Homo sapiens: one gene and its partners. The protein of the gene in region 1 interacts with the protein of each later gene in a pairwise test. Each region holds a gene or a part of one and is shown in the gene's direction. Other genes may lie near its edges. The genes, in order: TXK, DOK2, ZNF587 and ZNF792.

What was found.
Region 2: the proteins of TXK (region 1) and DOK2 interact in binary tests that used the Homo sapiens proteins (3 or more experiments, as listed by UniProt).
Region 3: the proteins of TXK (region 1) and ZNF587 interact in binary tests that used the Homo sapiens proteins (3 or more experiments, as listed by UniProt).
Region 4: the proteins of TXK (region 1) and ZNF792 interact in binary tests that used the Homo sapiens proteins (3 or more experiments, as listed by UniProt).

The regions. Positions count from the first base shown.
Region 1 is NC_000004.12:48,123,809-48,131,910, reverse strand, and holds part of TXK (tyrosine-protein kinase TXK), read left to right. Parts: intron 1-8,102. UniProt on the Homo sapiens protein: Non-receptor tyrosine kinase that plays a redundant role with ITK in regulation of the adaptive immune response. Regulates the development, function and differentiation of conventional T-cells and nonconventional NKT-cells.
Region 2 is NC_000008.11:21,909,825-21,918,247, reverse strand, and holds the start of DOK2 (docking protein 2), read left to right. Parts: upstream 1-4,557; 5' UTR 4,558-4,646; coding exon 4,647-4,709; intron 4,710-5,737; coding exon 5,738-6,019; intron 6,020-6,259; coding exon 6,260-6,347; intron 6,348-7,390; coding exon 7,391-7,575; intron 7,576-8,316; coding exon 8,317-8,423. UniProt on the Homo sapiens protein: DOK proteins are enzymatically inert adaptor or scaffolding proteins. They provide a docking platform for the assembly of multimolecular signaling complexes. DOK2 may modulate the cellular proliferation induced by IL-4, as well as IL-2 and IL-3.
Region 3 is NC_000019.10:57,859,526-57,866,386, forward strand, and holds the end of ZNF587 (zinc finger protein 587), read left to right. Parts: coding exon 1-615; 3' UTR 616-5,592; downstream 5,593-6,861. UniProt on the Homo sapiens protein: May be involved in transcriptional regulation.
Region 4 is NC_000019.10:34,955,854-34,962,331, reverse strand, and holds the end of ZNF792 (zinc finger protein 792), read left to right. Parts: intron 1-1,337; coding exon 1,338-1,464; intron 1,465-1,974; coding exon 1,975-2,097; intron 2,098-2,760; coding exon 2,761-4,376; 3' UTR 4,377-5,978; downstream 5,979-6,478. UniProt on the Homo sapiens protein: May be involved in transcriptional regulation.

The DNA.
Region 1 (8,102 bases):
CTGTGTCCCCTGCCACCTCCACTGGCAGGACAAGCTCAGCAGTGACTTAAGGATCTTTAAATATTAAAAGCTGTGTGAGCATCTGCTCTTTATTTCCCTCAAGGTCAGAACTAAAGAAAATGCTGTAAATTACAGCAGGAAGGATTCGGTTATATATAAAATAAATCACTGTGAGTGTTGAGACAAGGATTTGATTGTCCAAGGGATTAAATAAGGGACTACCTATTGGCGGGATATTTTGAGGATTATTCTCTCTGGCATGGATTTGATGAAATCTCGTTCTCCTTTCCAGCTTCTGTTAATTTGATTTGATGGTAAGAATCACCTGTTGTCTACTGTATATTGCAGCTGAATGTGGCTACATTTTCTGCTGGGTAAAACAATGAGTGTTTACTATTGACAAGGAGACAGCTAAGTGATGCCTCAAGATGTATTACTGTTAATCAAAAAACAAACAAACAAACAAAAAAAGTCCAGCGAAGAAGATTGCTTAAGCTGAGGAGTTTGAGGTTGCAGTAAGCTGTGACTGCACCACTCCACTCCAGTCTGGGTGACAAAGTGAGACCCAGTCTTTTAAAAAAAAAAAAAAAAAAGTTTATATGTTTGTTAGGGTCATTTGCCAAAAACATTTGTTGTTTTAAGCATTGTCATAGAATCCTGGCTTCAAAGGCTGCTATAGGGTGGGAGAAGATAATTGTGGAGCGTGGGATATTGATCATACTGATGGGAGATTTGGAGTGGGGTCTCAGGGCACTGCTCCAGTGAGATTCAGTTTGTGAAACGTACTTGGTATTGCCAGCATTTCCATCAACTCACAGTTGCCCTGAGAACAGATCCAGCCTAGAAGAGTTATTTAAAGGACAGGGCAAGGGAAAGCAGCTGGGGGCTTAAAGAATTCACCTCTTAGCTCCCCTGTTTGCCTAATTTCTCTGCCTTTCTTTATTCCCAACTTAGAGAGTAGAAAGAGTGGTTTCTAAGTCTTGGTGTGCCTGAAGCATGCCTGGGGTGCTGTTAAAAGGCAGGTTTCTGGGCTCATCTCCATAACTGGATCTGAGGGTAAAGTAAGGATGTTTTGGTCACACTGCCTTTCTTGGGCCTCTCTTTTCAGAGTCCTATCTTACTCCTTTTTGTATCTGATTCTCACACCAACTTTGTTAGGTCAACACCTTCCATTATTACTATTATGAATATGAAGATAAGGAGGGTAGCTGTGGTAGGCAGCCTCTAAGATGGCCTGATGATATCTGCCTCCAGATATTCACGCCCTTAGGCAGTCCTCCTCCTTGAGTATGAATTGGACCTAGTACCTCACTTCTTGTGATTAGAATATGGTAAAAGTGATGGAACGTCACCTCTGAGACCAGGTTACAGAGGTGGCGGCTCCCATTCCTGCGATCTCGGGCTTTCTGTCTCCTGCATCGCCGGCTGCTTTGTTGGGAGCACTCTCAGGCAGCCCGCAGAGAATCCCCATCACGAGAAACCGAGGCACCATGACCTGCTTGGAATTCGCTTAGAAGTGTATTCTCCAGCTCTGGTTGGGCCCAGCTTGACTGCAACTCCATGAAAGATCTGGAGACACAAGCACTCAGCTAAACCATTCCAGAACTCCTGGCCCACAAAAGTGTGAGATAAGTGTTGTAAGTCATTTGGTCTCAGAATAATTTGTTTCCAACAATAGATAACTAAGTGTGTGGCAAAAGCAGGAGAAGCCGCAGATTAAAAAAGAACTTGGCCACTTTGGCCACCCTTCTGCCTGGGGCTGGAGTTTGATGCCCTTTCTGAAAGATTAAAATGGACACTAGATGTGTCTTTTCTTTTGTCTTTAAATCATTTCAGTTTTTAACTCGTCACTGCAGCTGCCTTTTGTAACTACTGCAGATCCCCACATTTCTCCTCTGTGGAGCTCCCCAGGCCAGCAGTGCCCACACTCCCTGCCCACCGAGGGTCAGTGAGCAGTACGGCTTCTGGCCCAGTGCCAGCCACGCCCGTGTGCCTTGTGGCCAAGCACTTCTTCACATCACAAGCTGGCTCGATGTCTTGGGTGTGATGTCTGCGAGCTTATTATGAACTTTGAGCTCACAGAAAACAGTGTTCTAGGAAACACTGTTTTGAGATGTGGGGGAGTGGGGAAGTTGTGGGCAAGGTGCCTGCAAAGACCAACTCACATCAGCCCCTTCTGAGAAAGAAAGAAAAATTGCCTCATAGACCAAACAAGGGTTTGGGTGGCTGCTGTCCGTGTCTGGGGAGTTGCCCTGGCAGAAGCTGGGAAACAGATGAGCGGTCATCATCAGGAAGATTTCTGCCTTTCCTTACAGCACCTTTTACTCCCAGAAACATTGTCTTCCCTGGTGCCCGGGACTCCATCCAGCTTGCCAGGCTTCTAGAATCTCCTCACCCCACACAGCACCCCTTCAGGCCATAGACAGGTCAAGCACCACTCTTCCACTCAAATTGATCAGTTTGGTGTCCTGTTAGCTAGGTACTTGTTTTCTCTTAGTCACCAGTGACTCCCCTAAAGTAGTTATCCTCCCTTCTTTAAGGTTTCACTGGCAGTATAATGTCAAAAAAACAGAACAGTCAAGGTCTAACACAAATTACTCACTTATTTTATCCATACATTTAGAAAAACTAACATCTCTGGAGACCATCACTTCTTAGAATAATGGACATTTTAGTATCAAAAGGAAAAGTGCACACACGTGCGAACACAGACACAGGATCACTTCAGACCCCAAATGTATAAAGGGCATAAACTCAGAATAAAGGATAACTTTCTAAATTGAATAAATATGTGAAAAACTCAATGTCCCAATTTTACTATTTTCCCCTCTCCTTGGTGTGGGGTCTTGGTTTGGTGTCTAACTCCAAACCAAGAAGTCTAACTCCAACTTGGAAGTCTTTTCTAACTCCTGTTCAGAGGTAGAAATCCATCCATGCTATAGCCAAGCTAGTTATGTGTCACTCTCCCCAGATAATATGGGTTAATGTGGCTAAAACGTGCCTATCTTCAAAAGGCCCTTAAGAAATGGGGCCTTTTGAAGATAGGCTGGGCGCGGTGGCTCACGCCTGTAATCCTAGCACTTTGGGAGGCCGAGGCAGGTGGATCACGAGGTCAGGAGATCGAGACCATCCTGACTAACACAGTGAAACCCCGTCTCTACTAAAAATACAAAAAGAAATTAGCCGGGCGTGGTGGCAGACACCTGTAGTCCCAGCTACTCGGGAGGCTGAGGCAGGAGAATGGCGTGAACCCGGGAGCAGAGGTTGCAGTGAGCTGAGATCGTGCCACCACACTCCAGCCTGGGAGACAGAGTGAGACTCCATCTCAAAAAAAAAAAAAAAAAAAAAAGGATGTAGTGGTGGGCATTTATGGCAGAGTAATGAGGAAGTTTGGCCTTTCTGTAAATTTCTGGAAAAAAAAACAAAAAGGATATGTTGCAGCAAACTTACAGAATCAGCTCTGGTCACCCAGAGCCATTTTTCCAAAGCCACAAGTTTTTAAGGCTTTCCCCACTCACCACAGCCCATCAACTGCAAAAGCAGCCGGTATCAGACATTCCTCATCTTAAAACCACAACCTGGAGCGCCTGGCTTGGGCAACAAGCCTGGTCTTTGGGTTAAGGCAGCTCTCAAAACTGAGCCAGTTTCAAGCCATGTTTTTAAATATAAATCACTAGCCATGTGCCAGTTATTATGATGACCAAATTCAGTAGGAATGCATTTCACTCAAGGCACTGATTCAAAACGAAACCCTGACATCGGAAATGCCAGGGGATGAACTGGAGGTGACGATGTAAACTTCAAAACATTAGACATGAGGAAGCGACAGCGGCTTTGCTTCCCGCGCAGCCCGGGCCCCACAGTTCTTCACATCTGTTCCTTTGTCCTCTTCAGAGATGACCTTAGGAGCTATTCTGAGAAGGGGTGCTTCTCACTTTTGCTTTCTTCCAGTGCCCCCTGGTGGAAACCTGTTCCCAATCAGCCCAGCTGTTGCCACCCAGGAACCTCTGGGGGTGGAAGGAATGTCAATAGGAGCCTCTCCTAGAGGACAGAGGGGCGCAAATCCTTCCAAGGAAAAAACACAAATACCAAAGATGGGAGGGCCAACTGCCTATCCCATGACAGATGTGCCGGTTTCTAAAGGTCACAGAGATTACATCTGATGCGATGCCCTTTTTCTGATTTGCTGGCCTGAGGCTCATCATTAGAGATATTTACTGAGGAATGAGAAGTAGATGAAAAGAACAGCGCAGATGTAAGCCTGGGAGAGGAAGCTCAGCTCCTTCAGTGATAATCTTCAAGCCCGAATATATTCTTTCCACATTTCCTTCCAGCAGGCAAATAGTCATTGCCTATCTCTGGGGCATTTTTGTCACTCTGGCAAAGGCCCTTGATATGCATGAGTTCCTGCCTAAGTTGGGAATTTGCTAAAAGCTCAAGAGCTTTCCCTCTGCAGGTTAATCGGCAAAACAATTCAAAGAATGGCTTCTGTAATCACAGAATGCCTGTGGAAGGGCGCTGTCTATTTACTTACTGGGAACACCTGTGCTGCTGTAAATTGAAAATGATCATGAAATGAATACTCCTTGATACCTGCATTGGAATGAATTTTGGCCCAACACTTCAACCTGTAAATAAAGATGCCTGCTGTCTTGGAAAGTCATGCCAAGCAAGGGAACACCAGGGAGCTGTTTGGCTTTCATAGTGTGATTTTTCTTCTCGCAATGATTATTTATTGGGCAGCAACTCTGCTGGGCAGAGGATGGAACCACAAACAAAGCAGTGGTTTGCCTTCCTGCTCACCACTGTTCTTGGACTTTGAGGGAAATTAAATAAAATTGGGTCATAATTAAAGCAGTGGTAGGGTAGGTCTGTATCTTTCTTTAAAGGCCATTGTCTTTGCTATTGAATCAGGAAACATAAGAATTTTTGAAAATATTTTCTCCTAAATTCCAGGCTGCAGAAGACAGTGAAGACAACTAAGGGGAATATTATCAGGTGTGGCCATGTGTTGTGAGGTCAGGGAGCTGGGGGAGGCATTTCTCTAGTCCCAGATACTCCTGCCTGCTGACTGATAACAGCAATTTCTCTTTCAAAGTTCTTGACTTGGCCAGGCATGGTGGCTCCTGCCTGTAATCCCAGCAGTTTGGGAGGCCAAAGAGGGGGATCACTTGAGGTTGGGAGTTTGAGACTAGCTTGGCCAATGTGGTGAAATCCTATCTCTACTAAAAATACCAAAAAAATTAGCCGGGTATGGTGGAGTGTGCCTGTAGTCCCAGCTACTTGGGAGGCTGAGGCAGGAGAATCGCTTGAACCTGGGAGGCGGAGGTTGCAGTGAGCCGAGATCATGCCACTGCACTCCAGCCTGGATGACAGAGCAAGACTCCATCTCAAACAAAACAAAACAAACAACCACACACACACACAAAGTTGTTGACACTTGAATAAGGTGGTTCCCCAAAATGTAACTACTCATAGCCTAACATTGACCAGAAGCCTCAATAACATAAATGTTGATCAACACGTATTTTGTATGTTATGTGTATCATACACTGTATTCTTACAATAAAGTAAGCTAGAGAAAAGAAATGCTTTAAGAAAGTCATAAGGAAGAGAAAATAGATTTACTATTCATGGAGTGAAAGTGGCTCATGATAAATGCCTTCATCCTCGTCATCTTCATGTTGAATAGTCTGAGAAGGATGATGAAGAGGAGGGATTGGTCTTTCTGTCTCAGGGGTGACAGAGGCAGAAGAAAATCTTCATGTAAATGTTTATACCATGTTTTTCAAGTGTCAAACTATTTAAATTTAATGTGTTGTGATGGTTAATTTTATGGGTCAACATGGCTTGGCCATGGTGCCCAGATATTTGATCAAACATTATTCTGGATGTTTCTGTGAAGGTAATTTTTGGATGAGATTAACATTTAAATCGGTGGACTTGGAGTACAGTGGGTCACCCTCCATCATGTGAGTGGGCCTCTCCCACAGTTGAAGTCCCTAATCAATGAAAGTCAGACCTCCCCTGAGCAAGGAGGACTTTTGCCAGCAGACCGCCTTTGGGCTCAAACTGCAACTCTTCTCTCATTCTTCAGCTTGCCGGCCTGCCCTGTTAGATTTTGGACTTGCCAGTTTCCACAACTGCCTGAGCCAGTTCCTTAAAAGAAACCTCTCTCTGTGTTCACCCTGACTGTTACAAATGTCATGCTTACAAACATGTACACGCCTCTGCACTGCAGTAAGCATGACATTGCTGAAGCGCTGCAGTACAGCATGTTTACTATTTAACATTGTGTCTGTCATTTATACCTTACTGAGAAAAAGTGTGAGAGCCTCTCCTGAGGCCTGCTTTGATAGCAGGGAGAGAGAGTCTCCTGGAGTCCTGAACGGGGGAAACATCTGCCTTTGAGTCAGGGATAAAGTTGGCTCAGAAGAGAGGAGTTGGAGCTGAAGATTCGCTTTCGTTTACTAAGCCTTCTTCCTCCATTTTGTCTTCAGAGGGAAAACCACACCTGCTCCTATTTGGTTACCTTAAATGTATTTTGTGAGTACCCAATAAATAGTTGCTGAATGAGTTCTAGGGAACTGGGGGATGGGGACAAAGTGGTAAAGTAACTGAGAGTAGCTGGTATGTTCTAGCCATGTTTGCCTCTGCAATCTTATTTAATCTTCTCATCCACAAGGATAGTCCTATTGTGATGCTCATGGACTCTGGGTTTGACTTCTGGCTCAGCTGCTTTTTATGTGACTGGATAAATGGCTGAAGCTCTCTGTTCCTCTGTTTCTTTATGTGTAAGATGGGGATCATAATGTTAGTATAGTGAGTAAGTTAGCATGGCGTAGTATAGTAAGATCTAAGTATCTGTCATGCCTGGCATATGGTAAGGGCTGTGTTGGTAGAAGTGGGGAAACCCTTTCTTAGAAGACAACTTTTATTACCTACGTTTTCTAGATTTGATTGCCCAAAATCACATTGTTGCTCCAAGAAAAGGGAACAGTGATTTGAGTGCATGTCTGCCTGATACTAAAGCCTGCTGAACCCCATATGTTCTTTTAATACAGAAAAGAAAAAACAAACACATTTGAATGCCAGAGAGTTTTTAATAATTTCATTTGGCATCTCATGGTTTGGTACTTTATTTTGGATAAGCATTTGTTTAAAAATATATGTCTGGAATAAAAGGTTAGACTTATGAGCCCCCACAAATGCTGGCTAAAGCTCCGGAAGCTCAGTCTTCACCTTTGCCGTTCCACTCAGTCAAAAGGTCACGGTCAGCTTAGCTTTCTCTGTGGCCAGCATCACACTGTGAAATACTGGGTGATAAGATGAATGAGTGGAAAAAAAGAAGAGCTCAGATGTAATGTAAGGGTGTTGATATTGGTGGGGTCTTATTTAACAGTTATTTATTGAGCTTTTGTTATGTGCCAGGCACTGATGCTAGAAGCTAGGGAGAAGACAGAAAAAAAAAATTAAAAATAAAAAAAAAAGGATAAGATGCAGTCCCTGAGATTGAGAAGCTTACAATCTGGTCCAGTGTCTCCACTGGGGTTGATTTTGCCCCCAGGGAACATTTGGCAATGCCTGGAAACACTTGGGTTTCCACAATTGGAAGGTGGTGGTGGTGTGGGTGTTAGAAGGGAGGGGGTTATGTTGCTGCCGGCATCTAGTGCATAAAGGCCAGAGATGCCCTAAATATTCAGTGGTACACAAGACAGCTCCCCACAATAAAGAATGATCCTGTCTAAAATGTTGATAGTGGTGAGATTGGGAAGCCCTGTGAGAGATGAAGCCTACACAGAGAAACTTAAATGACGATCTCAGGTGGTACCTAACTAGGAACCACAGGGCAGGACTGTGCTTTGGGACAGGACATTTGGGACAGGGCATAGGTGCTTTGGGAACTGAAAGGAAGAGTACATGGGAGTGTATTGCAATGGAAGTCTTCCTTTCCAGGCTGGAGGCAGAAATGCACGACGTGTCTGTGAGAACAGAGCAAACAGAAGAAGCTGGTGCAGCAGGAATTGGTGAAAGCTAAAGTAGTCAGGGTGGGGTCACTTATGGAAGACCTTGAAAGTGGGGGAAGATATAATGCTGAGGAT
Region 2 (8,423 bases), on another chromosome or scaffold:
TGAAATATTCTCAGAGTCACAATTGCAATGGAAATTCTTTGGATTCCCTACTGGACTGAATAGAGGTAACAGTTTCACAGTGGGCCAGGCCCAAATTTCTGTCCACCCTCCCTTCCCCCACCCCCGCACCCCAACCTCCCCGTGTTTCTCCCTGTGTCTTCCCTTCCTCAGTAAATGGTACCACCATTCATCCAGTTGCTCCTAATAAACACTCAGGAGTTGGTTCTTCAAGTCTTATCAGTCCCCAACATGCAAGTCACCTGCAAGTCCTGTTCAATCTATATCTAATATATACCCAATATGACCACTTCTCCATCCATCTCCACTGTTAACACCTTGGTCCAAGCCACCATTACCTTTCTCCTGTGCTCTGGTAATAGATTCCTAATTAGTTTCCCTGCTTCCTGTCTTGCCCCTTGATAACCCATTTTCCATATAGCTGGACGCTGCAGAACATTATTTTATTTATTTGTTATTTTTTGAGACAGAGTCTTGCTCTGTTGCCGAGGCTGGAGTGCAATGGCGCCATCTCTGCTCACTGCAACCTCCGCCTCCCTGGTTCAAGCGATTCTCTTGCCTTAGCCTCCCAAGTAGCTGAGATTACATGCGCCCACCACCATACCTGGCTAATTTTTGGATTTTTAGTAGAGACAGGGTTTCACCACGTTGGCCAAGCTGGTCTGGAACTGCTGACCTCAGGTTATCCACTCGCCTCTGCCTCCCAAAGTGCTGGGATTACAGGTGTGAGCCACTGCGCCTGGCCAGAACATTCCTTTAAAATCATAATTCAGATAATTTACACTCCTACTTAAAATCCTTAAGTGGCCTCATGTTGCATTTAGAATTCGAATCTTTGCTGTGGCTCAAGAGGTCGTATGAGCTGACCTCACTCTACCATGCCCCCTCTGGCTCAATGCTCTGTGGTCATTCTGGCCTTGCAGTTCTGCAAAGCCAGGATCTCCTGCCTCAGGGCCTTTGCACTTGCAGTAACTTCTGCCTGGATTGGTTTCCCTTCAGATCGTGAAATGGCTGGCTCACTCTCCTCATGGACTTTTCAGCTCACTTGTCACCTCTCAGAGAGCCTTTTCTCACCACCCTCTTGAAAGTTGTCCCCTGTGCCTATCACTATCACAGCATTGATCACTGTCCAAAACTACATATTATTACTCTTTCATTATCAGTCCCTCCAACTAAAAGCAGACATAGTATAAACAAGGATTCTGTCTATGTTGTATCCCTAGTACCTCTGCACAGAGTAGATGCTCAGTAAATAATTGTTGAGGCGGGGCATGGTGGCTCACACCTTTAATCCCAGCACTTTGGGAGGCTGAGGGGGGTGGATCACCTGAGGTCAGGAGTTTGAGAGCAGCCTGGCCAACATGGTGAAACCCCGTCTATACTAAAAATACAAAAAATTAGCCAGGCATGGTGGTGTGCGCCTGTAATCCCAGCTACTCAGGAGGCTGAGGCAGGAGAATGGCTGGAACCCAGGAGACGGAGGTTGCAGTGAGCCGAGATCGTGCCACTGCATTACAGCCTGGACAACAGAGTAAGACTCCATCTCAAAAAATAAATAAAAATAAATTTAAAAAACTGTTGAATGTATTAACTTCTTTATGTCTCATTCTAGGGTGCATGTGGGTTTCATATGAAGACATAAAGCATTCTAAATATTATGTCACTGTTAGGTAACATGTTATGTTATGTTATGTTATGTTATGTTATGTTATGTTATGTTATGTTATGTTATAGGCCCTTCCTCTCAGCGGGTTTCTAGAACTGGGTTCTCTCTTTCCTTAGTACTGAGAAAAGTGATAGACTTAATGGAGAAAGGGTGGGGGGCTACAAATGAAGCTCAAGAGACTGGCATTGTCCCCCTCCCACACCCCACAGTCAGGGACCACTGGGGGTGGAAGGGGCAGGGATGGGGTCCTTCAGAATACACGCTCACTAATTCTTTCGCTCAGTCCTTCACCCGTCTCAGGCCCACATCAGTTCTCTGCCTATCCTATACGTACTTACCTGTTGTGTGCCCAGAACTACCCCTTAGCTAGCTTCCCTACCTGCACATCATTTGAGGGTTACCTAATCCCCAAGCCGGCCCAAGGAGTCAGACACAGTCTCCTCTCCTCCTTCCTTTGTTGCCCCAAAGACAAGGTCCCAGCCCTCTTATGTTAGGATTGGGTTGCTAATCACTGCAGCAGAATAGTAATGAAAATTTCTTGGAGCTGTGGTTCCTGACTCCTGCTGAGAGAAACTGTTGTAAGGGACAGGATCCCAGTGGCTTAGAATGAGCCACAGGTGGGGTTTGGAGTGCCTTTTCCTTTCCCGTAAAAACAAAGACAAGCCAAGAGGCACCCTCAACTCCTTTACAGTGCTTTTTCTACACATCATTGGTGCCTGTGGACCCTAAGGGCTTCTCATTCTGTGCGCTTCTGCTGTGTCTTGGAGCAATGTCTCTGGGCTCCTGTTTACAGGGTTTCCCCATGGCTAGGCAGAAGGTACTGGGGTTAGTGCTTCTACATCAGGGTCGCCACAAATCCTGCTAGGGACAGTTGAAGGGGCCTAGAAGGACTGCAAGGGTGTTGCTCTTGGTATATACTCTGCTGCCCTATCTTCTGCAGTCAACGGCTACCGGAGAACTCCTCCAGCTTCCATAAGCAAGGGATGACAAGGGAGTGTCTGGATTGCCTGGGGTTCAGGCCTCCGGGTTTAAACAACTTTCAAGTAATCTGGTAAACTTGGGTGCCCCCCTGTGGTTCTGAGTGGAATGTGTCCATTTTGCCTTCAGGGAAGGCGATCAGGTTAGCAGGGGACATCCTCTGTCACCTTGCTACTCAGTGTGCTTTGACCCACCCACCACCGGCAGCATCTCAGGGCTCATTCCAGACCTACTTTATTGGAGTCTACTTTGAACAAGATCTACATGTTACAGTTTGGAAGGCACTGCTCTGGCAGCCCCTAAGATGGCCATAAAGCCCTCCTCTTCTCACTCCCTGCACCAAAGACCATGCAGCTCCCAGGCAGAGTTGACTCTCCTTAGGGACTAAAGAGGAAGATTAGGTCACATCCCATTTCCATACCCCTAACCACTTCCCAAGGTGTGCTTTTCCCAAAACAGTATGCTTGGTTCTCCCTTGAGCTTTGGATCAACCTCTTCAAACCCAGGCATCACGGCTGAGGGCAGTGAGTTTGAAGTGACTCATCCTTGTCCTCACAGAGCTCATGACATTCATTTTTTTCAAGCTTATTTGGTCCAGTCCATGGCATGTACAGCAGAAGGCCTAAGCTGTGCACGGTGCTGCTCGCTCCTTGCCACGGTAACTGAACCCCTGTTGTAGAGGAAATGGGCCTGTTTATATAAGCACCTGTTATGGGATTAACCCCAAGAGTGTTGGTCTGAGTCTCAGTTTTTTCCAACCCTTCTGCACTGTGCCTCCATACAGATTGCTTCTCTAAACCATCTGGCTTTAAGTTAAACTTCTCTGAGCAGCTTGGATTTCCCCACAGCAATGGATCTTTTTGCATGGATCTGGATTCCATTTAGGGGCCCTGCAAAATGTTGAATTAAAGATCAGGAGCCCTGGTCTCTACTTCTTCCTCTGCCCCCAACTACCTCTGTGACCTCAGGCAAGTTGCAAATAAGTGTGTTCATACCTGCCCTGCCTTTGTCAAAGGATGGCGTGGCTGATGAAAAGTGTGTGCCTAGAAGCTTTGCGAGCTACGAAGCACTTTCGGTAACTCTGAACCATTTTCAAAATGTATATGAAAGTGATTGCTATTGAAACTTAAGATAATTTGCAGATGAAACCTAAGCATCTTTCTAATGCTCAGGAATGCTTGCAAGAAGGCAAAAATCCAACAGTTGAGATGTACTTGGGGAGTCAGTCCCTTCTCCAGAGGGGATGATCATCTTTCTAGAATCTTTACAGGGTTGGTGTGAGTGTGTGTTGTTGGCAGACAGGGAGTGCTCGCATGTAGTTAAACGGTTGCCTCTCTCTCTCTCTCTCTCTCTGTGTGTGTGTGTTTGTGAAACTGGTATCTGGTTAGGCCCACATGAGCTGTCTTATGTGTCTCTCTGTGCAGTGCCGTGTGTGTCATTCAGCTGTTAAGCGTTGAGAGACCTGGGTTCTGGTTTGGTGACCTTGAATAAATCCCTCAGACTTTCCAAGCCTGTTTCCTTATTTGTAACTTAGTGGTTTGTCCCTTCCAACTTGCGTACAGCTTGGAGGGGGGGGCCTTCACTACTGATTTCACTGTCTAGTTTGGTTTCTGGGTCTCTGTTCCAGTGGGCCAGCCACTCTTTGCTGGCGCCTCCCTGTGCCAACTTCTGTACCTGAATTGTTGCTCACTGAAGAGCTGGCATTTAGCTTTTTGGAAATTGTCTCTAACTCACTGGAAATGCAGGAAGCTTGAGTATAAAACTCACTCAGAAAAAAAAAAAAAAAAGAAAAAAAAGAACACACACTCAGAAGAAACCGCAGGGCCTATCAGCCTGTCGTCATCGAGCAGACTAGAATAGTATAGAAAACCCTAGGCAGAGAGGAAATGAACTTCAGAGAAGGGAAACACACGGCTAAGAAGAGAGAGGCAAGGGCAGGAGTGAAGGAGAGAGCTGAAGCCTGGGGCTCCGAGATGGTCAGAGGATGGGAGACGGGGCAGTGAAACAAGGCTTCTTGTATCTTCAGCAGCAGCAGACGTTTGGAAAGGTAGGAGTGAGGCTGGGCTGGGGTTGGGCAGGGGGCCTGGGAGGCTGCTAGAATTCCTGGGTTGGAGAGGGAGTTTCATATTCAAAACCCTTATAGGTCTGACTGTGCACCCACCAAGTTAGACCCAGAGCTCAACTTTGGGAGGGCTCTTTTCCTACCCGACGCTGTCTCCTGAACCAGGCCCCAACCAGGTCCCAAACTGTGCTCCTTACTGAGGGCTGTTTGCCCTGGGTGGGGGTGGGGGATGTGCTGCTTTCATCTCTTGCCTCTTTTGCTCTCTTGCTCTATGTTGACTTCTTTTCACCGGACACCTTGGAAGGGAATGGAAGGGGCAGCTGGAGGGACAGTTTAGGATGACAATAGAGGTTCCTTCCCAACCCCAGTGGGGTGCATGTGGCTGGTGTTCAGCTTGGGCTGGGGCCTCTGGGGGCCTGGACCCCAGCCGGCTGTCCATCCTCTTTCCCCTTCCCTGGCCTCCTTGAACCAGGAAGTCCTCGTCCCCTAACCAACACTGGGGGGCACACCTGTCTCTCTCTCATGGCCCAACCTATCAAGGAATGAGGCAGCAAGGTTCAGGAGGGTGGAGAGAAGTTCTCCTTCAGGATTTCGCACAGAAGGAGAATGAGGTCTCCAGCCCGGGTCACACGCCGCCCTCCTCACTCCCTCCTCTGGGCCTCGGCCACTGCCCCGCTTTCCTCCCCAGACTGGAGTCCACTGCGGTGGGCCTGTTTGGCCTTCTTGCAGCCTGCTTTGGGCTCATCCCGGCGTTGCTTTCTGCCTGGGCAGTCTCTGCTCTTGCTCGTGGGCCTCCTTCTCGGGGCTGGCGGCTGATCTCCGATTTTCTAATTCCTGCAGTCACTGTCCTCTTCTCTGCCTCCCTGGGTCTCATGTGATCTTCACCTCTCTCTCCCCATCTCCAAGTGGCTGCCCCAGTCCCCCTCCCACGGTTCCTCTTCTCCCCTTGGCTCACGATCTCCCCGTCTCTGGGTGGCTCCCTCCCGCCCCCGCCTCCCACGCCTCTGGCACAGAAATGGCGCCGCTTCGGCGCCTCACTGTATGGAGGGTCGGACTGCGCCTTGGCCCGGCTGGAGCTGCAGGAGGGCCCGGAGAAGCCTCGTCGGTGTGAGGCTGCCCGGAAGGTCATCCGCCTCAGTGACTGCCTGCGGGTGGCCGAGGCCGGCGGAGAGGCCAGCAGCCCCCGGGACACCAGTGCCTTCTTCCTGGAGACCAAGGAGCGCCTGTACCTCCTGGCGGCCCCTGCAGCGGAGCGCGGCGACTGGGTGCAGGCCATCTGCCTCCTGGCCTTCCCCGTGAGTCGCGCGGGGTGCGGAAAGGGCAAGGGGGCGTGCAGGCCGAGGGTGTTAGATACTTCCTGTGGGCAAGTGTTACAGGTGTCAAGGTCAGGGTGATGGGGTGCTTCCTCCATGTGGGGGGACCCGAACCCAGTGTGCAGACAGAGCCAGCAGGTTGAGGTGGCCTGAAAGAAGGCCTGGGCCAGAGGGGGGCCTGGGGATCGGGGAAGGTGATGAGACGGGGCGCCTCCTCCCTAGGGGCAGAGGAAGGAGCTCTCGGGGCCAGAGGGAAAGCAGAGCCGGCCCTGCATGGAGGAAAATGAATTGTACAGCAGCGCAGTCACAGGTGAGGGGGCGGGGGCTGCCCTGCTCTCCCCTGGGGGCTCTCCCCAGGGTGAGGTGGAGAGGAGGTGTGGGCTGGCTAGCTGCTGGCCCCGAGTCTTCCTGCCTTGTGGTTATCCCCAGCCTGGGCCAGCCCCGTTATCAGCCTCTCCTTCTCGCTTCCGGGTGCAGCCCAACGTAGGGAGCCTACCCTGCCTTGAGTCTCTCCCTTGGTTCACCTCATCTTACCTAGGGCCTGCTGGTGGGAGAGGGGAAGGCTGGGGGCCCAGGTGAGGGTGCTGCTTTTTTCTATTTTTGAGACGGAGTTTTGCTCTTGTCGCTCAGGCTGGAGTGCAATGGCACAATCTCGGCTCACTGCAACCGCCGCTTCCCGGGTTCAAGCGATTCTCCTGCCTCAGCCTCCTGAGCAGCTGGGATTACAGGCGTCGGCCACCACGCCTGGCTAATTTTTTGTATTTTTAGTAGAGTCGGGGTTTCACCATGTTGGCCAGGCTGGTCTCAAACTCCTGACATCAGGTGATCCACCTGCCTCAGCCTCCCAAAGTGTTGGGATTACAGGCATGAGCCACTGCGCCTGGCCCCAGGTGTTGCTTTTGAGGAGCTGGTGGAGGGAGGAGAAACTTTCATCTGCCTTCCATCTAAGCTTCACCCCCAGGGCCCCGGCAGTGGGAGGGCAGGGCCAAGGCTTCACCTGCAGCTGTGACCGTAGGGACTAGGGTGGTGGCTGGTTTGGGGTGAGAGATGGGGTGGGGAAGACAAGACTGTGGCTCTGGCGACAGGGGCAGGAAGGATGTGGGCACGAGGTTGGGGTGGATGTGGGTAGGGGCGTGATGCCTACTAGGGTAGGGGGTGGAGGTACCTGGCCTTTTGGGGAGTATGACCTGGCACAGAGCAGCTCAGCCTCCAAGACCCAGGCAGGGGGCCATAAGTGTGTGGATAATACTTTCTAGAAAAGTTCTGGTACGCTCATTTAGAACTGGGCAGTGGTGAGGCAGGCCAGCTGTTTCCCATTAACTGCCTTCGCCTTCTCTCTCTTCTTCTCCCCAGTCGGCCCCCACAAGGAATTTGCTGTGACCATGAGACCTACAGAAGCCAGTGAGAGGTGCCACCTGCGGGGGTCCTATACCCTCCGGGCTGGGGAGAGTGCCCTGGAGCTGTGGGGTGGGCCCGAGCCAGGGACCCAGCTGTACGACTGGCCCTACAGGTTTCTGCGGCGCTTTGGGCGGGACAAGGTGAGTGGGAAGCTGCATCAGGGCAGGTTGAGAGAAAGGATAAGCTACGAACAAAGAGGGGTGAGAAGCAGCGAGGGGATGGGAGAGACCAGGAGAGGGAGATGGAGTGAAGCAAAGAATAGAGTGACAAGATGGCAGAAGTGGAGTAGAAGGAAGGAGAATGAGAAGAGGTGGAGAGACCGTAGAGGGGTAAACAGCGTCTGAACTAGTGCCTAGCTCCATCCTTGAAATGGTGGCAGTGAGCAGGAAGGGCCTGGAGAGGGGAGAGGAGAGAGCCAAGTCTCTGCCTGTAGGGGAAAGCACAGAGGGCAGAGGAGGCTCCAGCAGTTCCCATGAAGGGAAGCTGGAGGTCCCAGGGCTTGGGTTAGGGATGGGGTTTAAGAAAGCATCCCTAGCTGGGCGCGGTGGCTCGTGCCTGTAATCCCAGCACTTTGGGAGGCCGAGGCAGGTGGATCATGAGGTCAAGAGATCGAGACCATCCTGGCCAACATGGTGAAACCCTGTCTCTACAAAAAATACAGAAATTAGCTGGGCGTGGTGGCATGCGCCTGTAGTCCCAGCTACCAGGGAGGCTGAGGCAGGAGAATCGCTTGAACCTGGGAGGCGGAGGTTGCAGTGAGCTGAGATTGTGCCACTGCACTCCAGCCTGGAGACACAGTGAGACTCTGTCTCCAAAAAAAAAAAAAAAAATGCACCCCTGCCCTGTGGCCTGGCCAATAACCTGCTTTCTCCCTGGTCCAGGTAACCTTTTCCTTTGAGGCAGGCCGTCGCTGCGTCTCTGGAGAGGGCAACTTTGAGTTCGAAACCCGGCAAGGCAATGAGATCTTCTTGGCCCTGGAAGAGGCCAT
Region 3 (6,861 bases), on another chromosome or scaffold:
CGTGTTCACACTGGAGAAAGGCCTTACAAGTGTGGAGAATGTGGGAAATCTTTTGGTCAAAAGGGCAACCTCGTTCACCATCAGCGAGGTCATACTGGAGAAAGGCCCTATGAGTGCAAGGAATGTGGGAAATCATTTAGGTACAGATCCCACCTCACTGAACACCAGAGACTTCACACTGGGGAAAGACCTTACAATTGTAGGGAATGTGGGAAATTATTTAACAGGAAGTATCATCTTCTGGTTCATGAGAGAGTTCACACTGGAGAAAGGCCATATGCGTGTGAGGTATGTGGGAAATTATTTGGCAATAAGCACAGCGTGACTATACATCAGAGGATTCACACTGGAGAAAGGCCGTATGAATGCAGTGAATGTGGGAAATCATTTCTTTCCAGCTCTGCGCTTCATGTTCATAAAAGAGTTCATTCTGGACAAAAGCCTTATAAGTGCAGTGAATGTGGAAAATCCTTTTCTGAATGTTCCAGTCTCATTAAACACAGGAGAATTCACACTGGAGAAAGGCCTTATGAATGCACCAAATGTGGAAAAACATTTCAGCGAAGCTCTACCCTCCTTCATCATCAGAGTTCACACAGGAGAAAGGCCTTATGAGTGCAGTGAATATGGGAAATCGTTTGCTGAAGCATCCCGTCTCGTTAAACACAGGAGAGTTCATACTGGAGAAAGGCCTTATGAGTGCTGTCAATGTGGAAAACATCAGAATGTCTGCTGTCCTCGGTCTTAAGCGACTTCGTGTTGAGATGGAGTCTTGTTCTGTCACCCAGGCTGGAGTGCAGTGGTGCAGTCTTGGCTCGCTGCAACTTGGGCCTCCTGGGTTCATGCAATCCTCCTACCTCAGCCTCCTGAGTAGCTGGGATTATGAGTACACACCACCACGCCCAGCTAATTTTTGTGTTTTTAGTGGAGATGGGGTTTTACCATGTTGGCCAGGCTGGTCTCAAACTCCTGACCTCAAGTGATCCACCCACCTTGACTCCCAAAGTGCTGAAATTACAGGCATGAGCCTCTGCACCTGGCCTTCATTCTTTTCGTATTGCTTAGAATATGACATGCTGAACCAGGCATGGTGGCTCATGCTTGTAAACCTGATGCTTTGGGAGGACAAGGTGGTTCATTGGAGGCCAGGAGTTAGAGATCAGCCTGGGCAACATAGCCAGACCTCCTCTCTACAAAAAGAAAAAAGAATGACATGCTTCTTGTTTTTGTCTGTTATAAATGAAACTGCTATATTTGAATGCAGTTGTTCATGTAGGTATGTTTCACTATGGTAATATGGTGGTGTGCAGTGCCTGAGTCACGTGATAGATTAAAGTACAACTCTTTTTTGAGACAGAGTCTCACTCTGTCACCCAGGCGGGAGTTAGGTGGCATGATTTCGGCTCACTGCAACCTCTGCCTCCCAAGTTCAACTGATTCTTCTGCCTCAGCCTCCCGAGTAGCAGGGATTACCGGTGTGCACCACCATGCCTGGATAACTTTTTTTTTTATTTCTATTAGCAATGGGGTTTCACCATGCTGGCCAGGCTTGTTATGAACTGACCTCAAGTGATCTGCCTGCCTCAGCTTCTCAGGTGTGACCTACTGTGCTTGGCCTAATGTACAACTTTTTAAGCAATGCCAAACTATGACTTAAGAATGAAATTATTGCTCATTTGTATATCTATCTACCATCAGTGTCCAAGAATTTCTGTTCTATCTTACCAAGAGGGAGTATGGTTAGTATTTGAAATTGTTTATTATTTTAATAAGTGGTTATAACTTTTGAGTCAGTGGTTTATGTTTTGCATTTTTTTTGTTTTGAGACAAAGTCTCGCTCTGTCTCCCAGGCTAGAGTACCGTGGCACAATCTCAGCTCATTGCAACCTCTGCTTCCTGGGCTCAAGCACTCTGCCCACCTCAGCCTCCAGAGTAGCTGGAAATACAGGTATGCACCACCACAACTGGATAACTTTTGTATTTTCTGTAGAGAGGGTTTTACCTTTTTGCCCAGTCTGATCGCGAACTCCTGGGCTCAGGCGATCCACTTGCCTAGGCTCCAAAAGTGCTTGGTCTACAGGGGTGAGGCACCCTGCCTGGCCTCACCTGTAGGCTTGTTTTTTAAAATGAATTTTATCTATTTCCCATTTCATTAATATATTTAAAAATAATGAAATAACAAAGACGTATGTTGGACTTCATTCATTCTTCAGTGATGTCACTTTGCTGCAAGGAATATTTGGTTTTCTTTTTTTTTTTTTTTTCCAGATGGAGTCTAGCTCTGTCTCCTAAGCTACAGTGAAGTGGCATGATCTCGGCCCACTGCAACCTCCACCTCCTGTGTTCAAGCGATTCTGCCTCAGCCTCCTGAGTAGCTGGGACTACAGGCATGTGCCATTATACCTGGCTAATTTTATTTATTTATTTTAGTAGAGATGGGGTTTCACCATGTTACCCAGGCTGCTCTCTACCTTCTGAGCTCAAGTGATCCACCTGCCTCGGCCTCCCAAAGTGCTGGGATTACAGGTGTCAGCCACTGTACCTGGCTGAATACTTGGTTTTCAGTACCACAAGAACTATGAGCTGGTTATCCACTTCATGTGGAATCATAAGCGTCCCAAAGTGACAATACATATAGATTGCCAGGCAGTGAAACAGTTAAGATGCCACCATAGCTTTCTTTTCAACATCTTTCTAAGATTACCTTACTATTTCTTTTGTTCCAAGTTTGTACTTCCTCACAGTTCTCACATATGGAAAGGATACACACTTTGTAGAAACAAGAACTTTATGTTATCCAAGTTCTAGGATAGCCATGAGCTCCAATTATCTCAGAGCTCTGAGTCCTCTACTCAATACCCATTGAGATTTATGTGTTCTGAGGCTTTTGTCTTCTAGCTACTTACTTCATTCTCCATGGGTAACGTCATTCATCCACATTAACTAATTTCCTCACTCCAAGCTCTTTTCTAGAGATAATCTCCAGTCCCTGTGCAGAAACTGTCATTGCACTTTCTGCTGAAATGGCAGTTTCTTCTCAGCAAGGTGAGATTATGGAATCCAGAATCTTTTTTCAGGGGTCACATGCCCATTTCCCCACTTGCATGAATGTCGACACTGCAGCCACAGTTTTGGCCGTAAATGTGAATTTGGCAAGTAACCACTGTTCCCAGGGAAATGTCCCAATCAGAAGAAGATTATCTGGGACACTGATACTGACAGGGAGATGGGACATTCTGAGGGACCCGGAGGCAGGGTGCCACCTCCTCAACTTCCCTGAGGGCTGCCTAGAATCTGTTTCCTCTCACTCTGAATTATTCTTCCTCTTATGGCTGACCAAAAACATGGAACCTCACAAAGTCCACTGTAACAGCTTTATATTTGTGAAGTGAAGAACATGAAGACAGTTTCAAGCAAAGTTATTGAGTGGACACTTTGTGTTTTTTTTGAGAAGTCTCACTCTTTCACCCAGGCTGGAGTGCAGTGGCACGATCTCGGCTCACTGCAACTCCACCTCCCGGGTTCACGCCATTCTCTTGCCTCAGCCTCCTGAGTAGCTGGGACCACAAGCGCCCACCACGTCAGCTTAATTTTTTTGTTTTGTTTCTTGAGACAGAGTCTTGCTCTCTTGCCCAGGTTGGAGTGCCGTGTCGCAATCTCAGCTCACTGCAACTTCTACCTCCTGGATTCAAGCACTTCTCCTTGCCTCAGCCACCTCTTTAGCTGGGATTACAGGTGCGTGCCACCACACCCAGCTAATTTTTGTATTTTTAGCAGAGACCAGGTTTCACCATGTTGGTCAGGCTGGTCTCAAACTCCTGACCTCGTGATCCACCCACCTCGGCCTCCCAAAGTGCTGGAATTACAGGCGTGAGCCACTGCACCTGGCCTGTATTCTTTTCTTTAGTAGAGACGGGGTTTTACTGTATTTGCCAGGATGGTCTCGATCTCCAGACCTCGTGATCCGCCCGCCTTAGCCTCCCAAAGTGCTGGGATTATAGGCGTGAGCCAACACGCCCTGGCCACTTCTTGTCTTTGCAACATTTTTTAGATATGTATTTGTGTTTTTTGGGGAGCTTAATTTGCTAATGGAATCTCTGTTATTTTCCTAACATGCTTGGTGGATACAAGAGTTAAGACTTCCTGTCCCGTTTAGTGTAACAAAAGAAAGTTAAGAAATGTGGATAAAAGATTGTAAGTTAGAAATGGCAAGATAATCAGCTATATGAAGAATCTTGGCCAGGTGTGGTGGCTGAGGCCTGTAATCCCACCACTTTGGGAGGCTGAGGTGGGCGGATCACAAGGTCAGGAGTTCAAGACCACCCTGGCCAATATTGTGAATTCCTGTCTCTACTAAAAATACAAAAATTAGTCGGGCATGGTGGCGGGTGCCTGTAGTCCCAGCTACTCGGGAGGCTGAGGCCAGAAAATCGGTTGAACCTGGGAGGTGGAAGGTGCACTGAGCCAATATCACACCAGTGCACTCCAACCTGGTGACAGAGAGACACATCATCTCAAAAAAAAAAAAAAAACTCAATCCATAAATGTTATACTTTATAACTTTATAACAGCATGTTATATGGGCTTAGATATTATCCCTAAATTTTTTTTTTTTTTTTTTTTTTTGAGACAGAGTCTCACTCTGTCACCCAGGCTGAAGTGCAATGGCATGGTCTCGGCTCACTGCAACCTCCGCCTCCCAGGTTCAAGTGATTCTCTTGCCTCAGCCTCCCGAGTAGCTGGGCCTATAGGTTCCCTCCACCACGCCCAGCTAATTTTTGTATTTTTAGTAGAGATGGGCTTTCACTACGTTAGCCAGGCTGGTCTCAAACTCCTGACCTCATGATCCACCCCCCTCGGCCTCCTAAAGTGCTGGGATTACAGGCATCTGCCACCGCACTCGGCTTATCCCTAGAAATCCTATGATAGCATGATGTATAGGCACCTAAAGGCATGGCACTTGAGAAATGTGAATAAGATTGTAAGTTACAAATAGCAAGGTACAGTCAGATGTTAACAGTCTCAGCCCCTAAATGTCACCTTGTATTACAGCATGTTATATAAGCACATACAGGCACATACATGAAATAGTGATACTTCATTCTCAGTAATATCTTCATCCTTCTCACTGGAAAGATCTTTGATGATTTTTAATCAACATAGGAGTTTCAATGATATCTAGAAGTTTAAAAGGGCTCGTTCAAACAAATTATGACCACACACACTGAAGAGTATGTTTGTCTCTTGTGGTGTAAATTTTTTTTTATTACACCAAATTATGTTCACACAAAACCTTTGTAATCAGGGGGAATTAAAGAGCCTTCCTGGAAAATGGAGGTTGCAATCAGCCGAGATGGTGCCATCGCACTCTAGCCTGGGGAATAGAGTGAGATCCTGCCTCAAAAAAAACAAAAAAATTCTTTATTTTCTCCATAAACTACAGTTTATATAAGCAAAAGTTTCAGTACTAAGCAATTTTAGTCTCTGCAGTCTCTTGTCTTGAATTAATACAACTTTTGTTAATTCTCTTATGAAGTTAATCTTCCTGCTTGTATGTGAATTAAATATATGTCAAACTTTTTTTGTACAAAAGATTCATACCTCTTTCCTGTTTGAAATTATTTTACTGTGTTTCATCAATCTAATGTTTATTTTTATTACACCAGTAATTTCCTCATTGTGTTGAATCTTACAGTGGCTTATAAATCTACATGTACCTAGAAATGTTTAGCCAGTCCATGTATATTTGATGTGGCACATTTTTTCCTTTGAATCACATACTCTAAGAGAAGTAACTTCCTCTTGCTAACCTCTACTTTCCCTAAGTGTTGAATTAATCCTCTTTAGATGATTATAATTCTCTTTTCAATAGCTAGAAAGAATCTATAAGGAACTTTCCTGGCTGGGTGTGGTGGCTCATGCCTGTAATCCCAGCACTTCAGGAGGCCGAGGTGGGTGGATCACGAGGTCAGGAGTTCCAGACCAGCCTGACCAACATGGTTAAACCATGTCTTTACTAAAAATGCAAAAATTAGCACCTGTAATCCCAGCTACTCAGGAGGCTGAGGCATAGAATTGCTTGAACCTGGCAGGCAGAGGTTGCAGTGAGTTAAGATCGTGGCACTGCACTACAGCATGGGCAACAGAGCAAGACTCTGTCTCAAAAAAAAAAAAAAGAAATCACAGTCCATGTCTGAGGGGTGTACATTGCTTATCAATTTGGAGAGAAAATAATAGATAATGTAATACAATGTTAAAATAGATTAAAAATTGAGATAGAAAAACTGCTCAATTTATGCTTCACATAAAATTGAAAATTAAATCAAGCCTACACATAAAGGCATTTTTTATATATATACATATATGTGTGTGTGTGTGTATATGTACACACATATATACGTATATATGTGTGTACATATACACACACACACACATACTTTTTATGTTATTTTTGGAGAGAATCTTGCTCTGCTGCCCAGGCTGGAATGCAGTAGCATGATCATGGCTCACTGCAGCCTTGACCACCCCCAGGGTTCAAGTGATCGTGCCACCTCAGCCTGCTGGGTAGCTGGGACTACAGACAGGCACCCTGCCTGGCTAATTTTTGCATTTTTTGTGGACACAGGGTTTTGCCATGTTGCCCAGGCTGGTCTCAATCTCCTCGGCTCAAGTCAACAGCCTGCCTCTGCCTCCCAATGTGTTGGGATTACAGGAATAAACTACTATGCCCAACTCAAGATTATTTTTTAAATGGTTTATTTTCTTAGTAAATTGGGGTGCACAAGTCATTAAAAGCAAGGATTAAATTTAAAGGGAAAAATTTGTTTTACTTTTCTACAGAAAATTAAAACCAAAGCACAT
Region 4 (6,478 bases), on another chromosome or scaffold:
CTCTCCCACTCCCGGCTTGCATTGAGTCTCTCTTGCTATAGTGAGCTTTGAGTAAGTAGCCTTGGCTTTTCTCATTTCATTGGTCTTTGTTTATTTCAACAGTTAGAAACATCCAAAATGTGACATCTGGTGTGTGGACGGGAGTGTAGCTGTGTGTGAGATTTAGGAGGTGAAACTTCAGGTCATGGTGACAATGATGTTAAAAAAAAGAGGAAGGTGGGGCTGGAAAACTGAGAGCAGGGTTCTTGCTTGGGGACTGTGGCTTGTTTGGCATCATAAAGACAGGTGAGGAACAGTAGTGGTCATGGTGGTGATGGAGGGGCTATGTGGGTGTATCAGAGGGTCTGGCAGGTGGCCAGATCATCCCAAAGAGTGTAGACATGAATGAGATGGATGCTGAGGCTTAGCAGTAGAGGAGGTAATATTGCAGTGAGGCCTGGGCTGGTGCTTACACACTCACCTATGTTCTCACCAGGCTTCTGTGGTGACCCTTGATGGGGTTTGTCCTCAGGCTGGGGAATTAGCTTGGGGCAAGAGGAGTCAGTTGGCAGAGTTGCTGGGCTTAGGTGGGTGGGGGTAGGATGGCCAGAGGGGTTGGCTTTTTTTTTCTTTTTTAAATGAGTGTGAGTGATGACAGGGTCAGAATGTGCAACAAAGAAGGCCAAGTGTATGTGACATCCATGTGTGCCGTGGGTGGCTTAGGTTGAAGCCAGGCCAGGGGAGCTAGGGGGCTCCAAGGCAAGGGTGGAGCGCTCCCTCTCCCCCTTACCTGGGTGTTGCCCTTGGCAGTGGAGGCCATCAAAGGTCTGGGGCAGGCTGGGATGGTGCTTATGTTTGCCAGGCACTCTCTGGATGCCATGTGCAGAGTGACTCGTGGGAGCCCATGGAGATGGCTAGGATAGGGGCCAGGATGGGGAGAAGGTAGCAGTGGCAATGGGAGGCCGTGGTGAAGGTCTGGAGCTGTGAGGGTGGTGCAGTCCAAAGAGTGAAACGCACGTGGGAGGGAGTATGAGCTGTTCACCCCAGGGCTCTGGACTGGGGTTTAAAGGAGAAGCCCACATTTGTATCTGAGAAGCATGACATTGGTGACACTAGGGGAAGAGGCTGGCAGAAGAGCGAGCTGGGCCCTGGACTTCAGGCCCAGAGCTTAGAGGGTGCCTCTCTGCACCCTGCCTGTTGCTGCTGCGGGCTGACACAGTGGTCACATGAGGCGCCCACAGAACCAGGGCCTGCTACCTCCTGGAGCTGTGGAGCTGGGGAGGAGAGTGAGCAGGGGATGGATAGGGAGTCCCAAGGACAGAGACTGATCATGGAACGAACTGTCCCCATCATGGCAGGGCTGCGTGACCTTTGAGGACGTGACCATTTACTTCTCCCAGGAGGAGTGGGTGCTCCTCGATGAGGCTCAGAGACTCCTGTACTGCGATGTGATGCTGGAAAACTTTGCACTTATAGCCTCGCTGGGTAAGGCTGTCACCCCTACCCCGGTGTCCCGAGCTCCTCTCTGCCTGTCCCCTTTGCCCAAGAAACAGCTCTTTCCTTCCCACAGCCAGACCGCTGGCACTGCTTCCATCCCCACTTTCCTGGTATGTGTGTTGTGGCTTCTGGGGCTGAGCTATGTGCATTGTTCCCTCCTCTCCCTGAGCTGCCCCCACACCTGCTGCCTGAAGCCTTGCAGGGAAGCTCCAGGCATGAGGGGTCTTGCGGTTAGCTGTGTGACTACCTCTGACTCGGCCATTCCCTCCTGGGTGATTATCCAGATCTGACAGTTCTGTGGTTTAGATTCTGTGCCTTTCCTCTTGCTAATATTTCCTAAGCCTGACTGTGCCAGGAATTCCAATCACTGATGTGGTTACTGCTTGCCGTGACCACCCAATGTCCCTGTGTCATACGGAGCTTCCTGTCTTGTAGTCTATCATGGGGTAGTTCAACTGGGCAGGTGCTGGCCACTGACCCACTCTGTCTTTCCCTTAGGACTTATATCTTTCAGGTCCCACATCGTTTCCCAGTTGGAGATGGGGAAAGAGCCCTGGGTGCCTGACAGTGTGGATATGACATCAGCCATGGCCAGAGGGGCTTATGGCAGGCCTGGCTCTGGTAAGCAGCGATGGGAGCTAGGGGAGGATGTGACTTCACCACTGTGTTTACATCATACCAGCATCTTCTCTCCTATTCATCATCATTTGATACCAATGCCAGTAGCCAGACCACGTCTCTGCTTTTCCTTCCCCGTGCTTGACACATTATCTACTTGTCATTATTATTCTGAGTTGGGCCCCTTGGCTGTGCCCCACTTTTCTGGCCTCCGTTTCTCTCTTTCAGCTTCCTCTGCGGCACTTTCCAACACTGGCCTACACTTAATGTGTTGTGAGATACGTGCTTTTCCTTGATGTGCTTGAACACCAGCTACTCAGTTGCAGGTTTTGCTGGGTCTAGATGCTCTCACTGCATAGCCCTCACAGGTTACCAGCAGCCCAGGCCCTGCCAAAAGGCCTTTAAAGAGAAGTGAGTGGGAGACCCTGCCTCTCTGCCCAATACTGTCCCCCATCCTTGTGTCCCTGGTCCTGATAAGGCCTCCTGTATTTTGTGACCTGGCCAGGCACAGTATGGCGGAGCAGATTATTCCTTACCCTGACCTGAGCCTTCTTGTGTTGCCAACAATCCCATGGGCTTATTCTTGGGTCAGCCAAGCATAGGTGATGGGGCTCTTTCCTTCTATTAAAGTTTATACGAACTTCACCAGCATTTCTCTGCTTTCAGATTTTTGCCATGGAACAGAGGGCAAGGACTTACCTTCTGAGCATAACGTTTCTGTAGAAGGAGTGGCACAGGACAGGAGTCCCGAGGCAACTCTGTGCCCCCAGAAGACCTGCCCCTGTGACATATGTGGCCTACGTTTGAAAGACATTTTGCATTTGGCTGAACACCAGACAACACATCCCAGGCAGAAACCATTTGTGTGTGAGGCATATGTGAAAGGCTCTGAGTTCAGTGCAAACCTTCCCCGGAAACAGGTGCAGCAGAACGTACACAACCCTATCAGAACGGAGGAGGGCCAGGCTTCCCCTGTAAAGACCTGCAGAGACCACACATCAGATCAGCTTTCCACCTGCAGGGAGGGTGGGAAGGACTTTGTGGCCACAGCAGGGTTTCTGCAGTGTGAGGTCACTCCCAGCGATGGGGAGCCGCACGAGGCCACCGAAGGTGTGGTGGATTTTCACATTGCACTAAGGCATAACAAGTGCTGTGAATCTGGGGATGCCTTCAATAACAAATCCACTCTTGTTCAGCACCAGAGAATCCACAGCAGAGAAAGGCCTTATGAATGCAGCAAATGTGGAATCTTCTTCACTTACGCCGCTGACCTCACTCAACACCAGAAAGTTCACAATAGAGGAAAACCGTATGAGTGCTGTGAATGTGGAAAATTCTTCAGCCAGCACTCCAGCCTTGTTAAACATCGCAGGGTTCACACCGGTGAAAGCCCTCACGTGTGTGGTGACTGTGGGAAATTCTTCAGCCGAAGCTCCAACCTCATTCAGCATAAGAGGGTTCACACTGGTGAAAAGCCATATGAGTGCAGCGACTGTGGGAAGTTCTTCAGCCAGCGTTCCAACCTCATTCATCATAAGAGGGTTCATACGGGCAGAAGTGCCCATGAGTGCAGTGAATGTGGGAAATCTTTCAACTGCAACTCCAGCCTAATTAAACATTGGAGAGTTCACACTGGAGAAAGACCTTACAAGTGTAACGAATGTGGGAAATTCTTCAGCCACATTGCCAGCCTCATTCAACATCAGATAGTTCACACTGGCGAGCGGCCTCACGGGTGTGGTGAGTGTGGGAAAGCCTTCAGCCGAAGCTCTGACCTCATGAAACATCAGCGAGTTCACACTGGTGAGCGGCCTTATGAATGCAATGAATGTGGGAAGTTATTTAGCCAGAGCTCCAGCCTCAATAGCCATCGGAGACTTCACACTGGTGAACGGCCTTACCAGTGCAGTGAATGTGGGAAATTCTTTAACCAAAGCTCCAGCCTCAATAACCACCGGAGACTTCACACCGGCGAGCGGCCTTATGAGTGCAGCGAATGTGGGAAAACCTTCAGGCAGAGGTCCAATCTGAGGCAGCACCTGAAAGTTCACAAACCAGACAGGCCTTACGAATGCAGCGAATGTGGGAAAGCCTTCAACCAAAGGCCTACCCTCATTCGGCATCAGAAGATTCACATCAGAGAAAGGAGCATGGAGAATGTGCTCCTTCCCTGTTCACAGCACACACCAGAGATAAGCTCTGAGAACAGACCTTATCAGGGCGCTGTCAACTACAAGTTGAAACTTGTTCATCCAAGTACCCACCCTGGGGAGGTTCCCTAGGAATGCTAGCTGTGTTGGAAGCTTTCTGGAGACAAGTTACATTCTCTTACTGTAGAGTTTATCAGCGTTTTTTCACTGCTGGGGTTGTGATAGAAGCCATGTCAGCACCACACACTGCAGCTCTCCAAAGAGTGTGTCCACCACTCCACTGTGCTCAGGGAAGGCAGACCTCTCCTCTCTCTTTCCAATCCCTAAAGGGAATTAGGAGTAGTCTGAAGCCTTGGGAAGATGTCATTCCCGCCCTGTATGGCTGGTTTAGCCATGGACATGACCAGCTTTTGGCTGTGAAGACCTGAGCAGGGTTTTGCCAACAGCTTGTTCTAGAGAAGGTTTCCCTTTTTCTGGGACATTGTTGGTCTCATGTTATGCCTGTGAAGGATTTGTCCAGCCTTCATGTTACTCTACACAACAACTTATCTCCTGTGTATTGCCCTGGTTCATGTGATGATAATGGCCTTATGATAAAGCCGCCTTTAGTCTTCCATGTTCTGATCACTGTGTGGGGTGGTTCAAGAGCAGAGTTAAGATCTACCAAACTGAAGGGGTCTCCAGATTATCTTGGAGGGGACAGGAGGATGGCAGAGAAACAACTGTCAATCCAGATTTGACCTCATTTGCATTGCCACCAAGGCCTCCTAGGAAAAATTGTAGGAATTTATGGGTATAATATTGTGGTCTGAATGGCGTGAATTTTTATCCCGAGGAGGGGGCAGTTGTGACAACCTCCAGTGCATGTGGGAACAGCATGAATTGGGTCCCTTATTCCCAGGGGGTGCCCCATATTCCCCAATACTGTAAAGCAGATGCTGTTTAGCACCTGCCAAGGAGCCATATGCCCTGAAGTTCAGCATTAGGCAGGTATCTCTTAACTGTAAGACATACCAGGCCCAGCTGGGACCATAATTTGTACAGAAACACTGGATGTGATTAATAGGGAGTAGGCGAGATTATAGCAAACCAGCAGAAATGGAACTCTGCTAAATGTGCATCCGTGAATGCTCCCTTGAATGTGGCTGTGCAGGATTCAGGGTTTGCAGAAATTCTCAGGACCTCAGACCTCTGTCCTATGACTAATGTTACTGGCAGAGCAAATAATCTAAAGGTTTTGGTTTTGTGGATTACCATCTCCGTGCTGTGCATCTGAAGGCCAGTGCTGTGCTGGCAGGAAAATAGGGACTGAGAAAAAGCAGATCCTATACTATAGGGACTGTAGTATCTATGACGTAGCCAGCCATTCTTTGCTCCCAAGGCAAGAAGAAAGAGATGACAGAGTCAATATAGGGTTGCCAAATCGGATTTTCTAAAATGAGTAGGAAGTTGGATTTTTATGTGCAACAGTTTCTTTTAATGCTTTGTTGATATGTGATTGTCATGCAATAATTATTCATATTTGGTAAGTTTTGTACATATATTATGTACACTCAGGGAACCAATACCATAATCATGATAATGAACGTATCCATCACCTGCAAAGCTACCTCATGCCCCTTTACATTCCCTCCTTGCCTTCCCTAGGAAACCGTTGATTTACATTTTTTACTTTAGATTTGTTTGCCTTTTCTAGAATTAACACAATTGGAATCATAAAGTATTTATACTCTCTTTTGGTCTGGTTTCTTTCATGCAGCATAATTATCTTGAGAATCATCCATGCTGTGTGTATATATAGTTCATTCCTTTTACTACTGAGTAGTGCTATACTGGGTGAGTGCACCATAGTTTTTTATGGTTTATTTAAAAATGTTAAAAAAATCTGATGAAATATACTTAACATGAAATTTACTATCCTAACCATTTTTAGTGTATACTTCAATGGTATTAAGTAGATTCGTATTGTTATGTAACCATCACCACCATTCGTCTCCAGAACTCTTCAATCTTGCAAAACTGAAATTCTGTACCTGTCAAGCAATAACTTCCCATTTTCCCTTCCCCAGCCCCTCAAAACCACCATTCTACTTCCTGTCTGTATGAATTTGACCACTCTAGGTACCTCATATAAGTAGAATAATAAGTATTTGTCTTTTTGTAGCTAGCTTATTTCACACTTAGCATAATATTCTCAAGGTTCATCAATGTTGGAGCATATGTCAGAATTTCCT